Regions from separate parts of the Homo sapiens genome. Here region 2 is linked to region 1. Evidence: fine-mapped expression QTL. A gene starts in region 1. The other region holds a variant in brackets. All regions are shown on one strand. Distances are between the middles of the regions.

Region 1 (2,904 bases):
CAAAAGTGCAGTCTCGGCAAGAGTGTTCTTCCCCAGCACCCCTCCCATCTGATGCAGGACTTAATGAGAGCTGGCTGCTCCCTGGGATCTTTAATTAATTGTCCCAGCCCCACAGCCCCAGTGCTAGCAGATTAAACCCAGCCACGGTGGGGAGTAGGCTGCGGACAGCTTTGGATGCAAATGCCTGAAGCGAAGGATTTCTGCCTGTGAAATGGCTGAGTGGGTGATTTTAGAGCAGCTGCGCCCGGGGCTGCCCCCAGGGAGATGAGCCTCCGAGCCCTCAGCAGAATCAGTGCAGCCAGAGGGTGCCCTTTTCTTACCAACTCATCTCCGGTGCCTGTGGGGTGGGAACCTCGGCCTGCCAGCTCCAGCCCCAGCCCCAGCCCCAGCCCCAGCTCCAGCGTGCCTTGGCCAGCCCCAGAAACAGGAGGGAGGATGCAGGCAGATCAGTTCCACAGTGACCTAGAGGTAACCATCCAGGTGCCCTCCAGGTTCCCCAGCTGTTTCGTTCCCGAGGCGGTGCTCCGCCCGCCCTCTGCCCTCCAGCTCCTCCTGCATCAGACCTCGGCCTAGCCTTTGCTGTCCCCATGGCTTGGGATACTGTTTCCTGGCTGTCACAGCAGGGCTGTGTCCTCTGCAGCCTCCAGGGCTCCATGTGAGTGTCTGTCCTCGAGGGACATCCTTCTGGACACCCCCAGGCTGCTCTCTGCCTCGCCTGCACAGCTCCTGCAGCAGAGCCTGGAAAGCTCCCTCTGACTTGGTGTTTTGTCACCTCGCCCGCTGGTTATCAGCCCCATGGAAGCCTGGTGTCGGTGCCTGGGACCAGCTACAGGGGCTCTCAGGAGGGCCTGGACCGGGTCTGGGGCAGGGAGGGAGGAGCAGGAGCAGGCAGAGGAGACACCGAGCTTCACTGCTGGCACAAGGACAGCCAGGACTCCCTTTGGGCCTGGGACTGGAGTAGACCAGAGCTGTCCTGAGCAGGGGGTTGTCCAGGCCTGTGTGGCTCAGTCATAGGACATGGGCCTGGGGAGGATGGCACAGGGGTGCTGTCTGTCTGCAACTGGGGGTGATGCTGAGCACGTCTGGTTACAGCCCCTAGCAGCTGGGCAGTGTATCCTTCCATGAAGCAGGTCTGAGGCACATCCCTGCATCTGCCACAGAGGTAAGTGCCTTCACCTCTAAGTAGACAAAGCACTTGTAACACAGTGGGCGCTTAGTTACTCTTTGGCTGGCTGTACAGGATCTAGTCCCTACTAAGCACCCCAATTCTGATAACTTTTGGTTGTCCATGTCTGAGTCCCTGTTCTGCAGGAAACGGCACCCACACTATGGAGCCCAGGGTCCTGTGCTGGGAGCTTCCCGCAGCCTCTGTGCCTCCTCCTCCCCACTGGCCAGGGGGTCCCACTGTGTCTATTATGGATGAAGAGGTGAAGGTGTGGGCCCCAGGACGTGGTGCTCCAACCTCTGTGCTCACTGCCATGCTCAGCATGGCTCCCTGGGAGCCTGACCCTGAGGTGTGGCATGGACGAACCCTGGGCTGGGCTTCCTCCCTTTGCCCCTGGCCTTTACCCAGCACGAGCACCTCTGGGAAACACCCCAACCCCCAGGACAGTCTGAGTTCCTGCACCCTTCAGCCCGGGCTTGCCTGAAGATGGCTGTGTCTTTCAGCACCTGCATCTTCAGTGACTCCCCAGACTCCCCGCAGTCCCCACTCCCCACCTCCCTGGGCCCACGGTATGCAGCCACACCCAAGGCAGCCCAAGTCCCAGTAGCAACACCACACATTCCCAGAACGCTTACGCTGGGCCAAATTCAGCCTGTGCCTCTCCACAGCCAATCCTGCACTTGCCGGCCCCTAACTCTGTAGCTGCACACAGGGCCTGGGCACTTGAGACCTCAGACTCGCCACCGGCTCCTCAGAGCCCCTGCCCAGGTCACCTGTGTAAGGAGAACACAGTGCCAATGCAGCACAGCATAGTGACACCCGGCCTGCCGGGATTTAGCCCCCACCCTACCTAGCGGTTCTGGAGCTGCCACTGTGACCCATGCAGGGTCGAGCATCCCAGGTGAGTGCAGAGCCCCTGACCCGGGGATGTCACTGCTCTGTGGGACTGTCAATAGTGATACAGGAATAGAATCAAGGGACATAGGGGCAGCTCTGCCAGCACAAACCATCAGTAGCATCCAGCTTGGGGTTGCACAGCATCAGAAAAGCCTTCCTGGAGGAGGTGGAGTCTGAGCTGCCTCTTTAGGGTAAGTCTTTTAACAAGAAGAGGACCAAAAGGGTGGGCTACGCTGGGGGTGCAGAGGTGTGGGCTGTTTTCAGAACACCTGGGCTTGGGGTGAGCTGTGGGGGTGGGAGGTCAGGCTGTGGAGATGTGGCTGCTGCTGGGGCCCCTGTGCCTGCTGATGGGGTGTCTCTGGTACCTGGAACCAGGTGGAGCAGGTGGGAGTGGCCTGACGGGGTTAATGCCCACCTGGTCTCCCCAAAAGCCTTTGGAATCCTCACTCAGGGTCCAAGGACACCCTTCAAGCTGGCCCTGCCCATTCCTCCAGGCTCCCACCAGGGCTCCCCCACATCTGTGTTCCCCAGACACTCTGGCCTTCTTTCAGGCCCTCCCAGCCACTGCTGGGCCTTAGCACTTCTAGAACGTTCTCCTCTGCTCCCCTGCACCCCACTACCAAGTCTTTGTCCAGTTAACTGCATCACATTCTTTGGGTTTGAGCGTCATCTGCACTGGCTCAGGAAGCCCTTCCTGGCCCCAGATGGGATGACCCTGCCCTGTCCCCTCTCCCGAGGGGCTTGCACATCTTGGTGCTCTCACGGTGGTATGCCCTGTGACTCTTAGAGTTCCTGGCGCACTGTAGGGACTCAGGAAATACTTGCCATGCGAGCGGAAGAGT
Region 2 (2,904 bases), 55 kb before region 1:
GTTTCCTAGGCTGCTATAGCAAATTGCCACAAACTCCACGCTTAAAACAACACCAGCTTATTGCCTTATAGCTCTGCAGGTCGGAAGTCTGAAATGGGCCTCACTGGACTAGAATCAAGGTGTTGGCCAAGTCGCCTTCCTTTGTGGTAACTCTAGGGGAGAATCTGTTTTCATAGCTTTTCCAGCTTCTAGAGGCCACTTGCATTTCTTGGCTTGTGGCCTCTTTTCCGTCTTCAAATCTCATTACTCCAGCCTCTGCTTCCGTCATCACATCTCTTCTCCCTGATTCTGATCTTCCTGCCTCCCTCTTATAAGGACCCTTGTGGTTGCATTGAGGCCACCTGGATAACCCAGGATAAGCTCTTCATTTCAAAATCCCTGACTTAATCACATCTGCAAAATCTTGTTCGCACGTAAGTTGGTATATTCTCAGGTTCCAGGGATTAGGACACAGACATCTTTCAGCTGTTTGTTTTTTAGAGATGGGGTCTCACTCTGTCATCCAGGCTGGAGTGCAGTGGTGCAATCATAGCTCCCTGTATCCTCAAATTCCCAAGCTCAAGGGATCCTCTTGCCTCATCCTCCCTAGTAGCTGGGACTACAGGCATGCAATACCATGCCTGGTGAATATTTTTAAAACCATTTTTAGAGATGGGGCCTCACTGTGTTGCCCAGGCTGGTCTCTAGCTCCTGGCCTCAAGCGATCCTCCTGCCTCAGCCTTCCAAGTAGCTGATATTACAGACATGCACCACCACTCCAGTGTGGGCATGGACAACTTTGGTGGCTATTATTTAGCCAGTGGGGATGGAGGAGAGCTATGGATAAGAGATACAAGAAGGAGTCAGAGTGCCTGAACTTGGTGGGTGTGGGTGGTGAGGGAGTGCCTACAATTCCCAGGGCATGCATGGTGGCACCAGTCCCCCGCGTGGTCTGATGCTTTCCAACAGTGTCCCACAGTCTGGCACAGGCACAGAGCAGGCAGGCAGATGAATCCATTGAGGCTGGAGTTCTTGCCAGATGGGAGGTACAATGGCAGGATGATAGGGCAAGAGCGAGGGGGGTGGTTGAATCATGGATCCTGGAATGTAAGAGGGAAAGAGAGAAAGAGACACTTTCCTCTAACAGGTAAGAAAGTAGACCTGTCAACAGGAGAAGGAACTCACCTTTGCGGGTGACTGCTGCACACCTGGCCCTTGCTGTACCCTGGGCCTGTGTCCACTCTAGTCCATGACCCTGCCTCCTGCCGATGTGACAAGCACTTGAAGGTCAGTTGGGAGCCTCAAACTCAACAGGTCCCAAACCAAGCCCCTGACCTCTCCCCATCCTGCTTCTTCTGCAGCCTTTCCCATCATTCTTCCTTCTGACTGCTTAGGCCAAAAACCTGGTGTTATTCTTGGCTCTTTGTCTCTTATGATCCCCCACCCAGAGCTTGTCATCTCCACCTTCAAAATATTAGCAGAATCAGACCACTTCTGCTCCTTCACTCTGGACCAAGTGACATTATGTCTTGCCTGGACTGTTGTGAAAGCTCCTGAGGCATCTCCTTGCCCCTCAGTCTATTCCCTAAGCCCCATACCGATTCTCACCTTATTCGGAGTAGAATTCAGTCCCAACATTGGCCCTCAGGGCTCGACATGTTTAGGCACCTGTCGCTGCATGACTGGCTCTTGCCT[C/G]TCCTCCCACTCCTGACTCCACCCTGGCCACTGTGACTTCTTCCCTTTCCACAGGTATGTAGCCCCACCCTGCCTCAGGGCCTTGCATCCTGCTGTTCCCTCTGCCTGGGACCATCTTCTCCCAGATACTCACATAACCTGCTTCTTCACTTCACTCAGGCATTTGCTCAAGCTTACCTTCTCAGTGAAGCCTTCTCTGGGCATCCAATTTAAAAAGATAACACCACCTCCATCCCTGCATAAGGGAACGGCTCCGCCTTGGCGCCCTGCATGCAGCCACAGGGCCACGCAGCAAAGGTTCCCACCCTTGAACCACAGCCTAACCCAGCTTGGCACGACACCCTGCAGTCCTCCTGGAACACCGGAGGATGGAGGCCTCTCCCCTGGGAGGCAGTGCTGAGGCAGCTCCGCAGTGCCTCCTGGGTCCCCAGCAGAATAGAGCTGTGGAATTCAAAGCCACTTAACTGCAGTCAAGCTGTGTCAGGTTCCTCGGTGATGGGGTGTCCCACAACTCAGACCCAACTCGGACTGTGGTCGTCCAGGCCCTTGGCTTTGGTGGCATCATTTTAGGTGTGCAGGACAGGGACCCTGGACATGACACTGTCCCTGACTCTTCCTTTCATTGTCCATGCAGGTCACACACTGTCAGAATCTAAAAGTGGCTCGTTGTGTCTGCTCTGGCTGGGTCAGTCAGGGCCAGCCTGGTCTTGCTGCAAGTGCTTAACCACCACTCTTTGCTATGTTGTGTATTTTAATTATCATGTTCTGTTGTTTCTCCCTCCGTGAGGACAAGGGTTTTGTCTCCTTTTACGTGGTTCATGCCCAGTTCCCAGTCCTGGGGCTGATACACGGCAGGTACTCAGCAACTATTGAATGAATGAAGATGAGCCATCCTCAGGCCTTTTGTACATAAAGAAATCGAGGCACAGAAAGGTCACACAGCCAGTCATTGGCGCAGGTGGGATTTGAACCCAGGCAGTCCAGCTCCAGAGCCCACCCCTACGATTCACAGCTTCCCATTGGGGGAGAGTTTCTGCAAAGGGGAGGAATAGGTATGGTGGAGCTTGGATGAAAGCAATCAGGGAGAACTGGTATTTGGTTGGAGATCCAGTAGGTTTCTGGTGCTGACCCTAAAGGTGTGGCTGAGGGCCTGGGAGGCTGGGATGGAGTGGAGGATTGAGATCCTGAGAGCCCAGGGTGCTGGACTTGGCATGGGTCGTCCACTTGGTC

Alleles and levels. Positions count from the first base shown, and alleles are read on the strand shown. Sizes are in standard deviations (SD) of each study's normalised expression.
For the expression in prefrontal cortex of the gene that starts at base 1,842 in region 1, allele G in region 2 goes with a lower level than allele C (small effect, 0.33 SD a copy in ROSMAP).

What was found. PIP is the estimated chance that this variant, and not a neighbour inherited with it, causes the effect. A credible set is the group of variants that fine-mapping cannot tell apart.
Region 2: its variant is the best candidate, but not a certain one, in a credible set for the expression of LINC02016 in prefrontal cortex (ROSMAP, PIP 0.78).

What each region holds. Positions count from the first base shown.
Region 1 is chr3:127,389,608-127,392,511 of GRCh38, reverse strand. LINC02016 (long intergenic non-protein coding RNA 2016) reads left to right here and starts at 1,842. Exons shown (of 5, transcript NR_110147.1): 1 at 1,842-2,066. RefSeq lists an enhancer at 9-820.
Region 2 is chr3:127,444,951-127,447,854 of GRCh38, reverse strand. No RefSeq gene overlaps it. Among named protein-coding and RNA genes, the nearest start is that of LINC02016, 56 kb to the right of the region's middle. The variant C/G (reference allele first, on the strand shown) is at 1,675.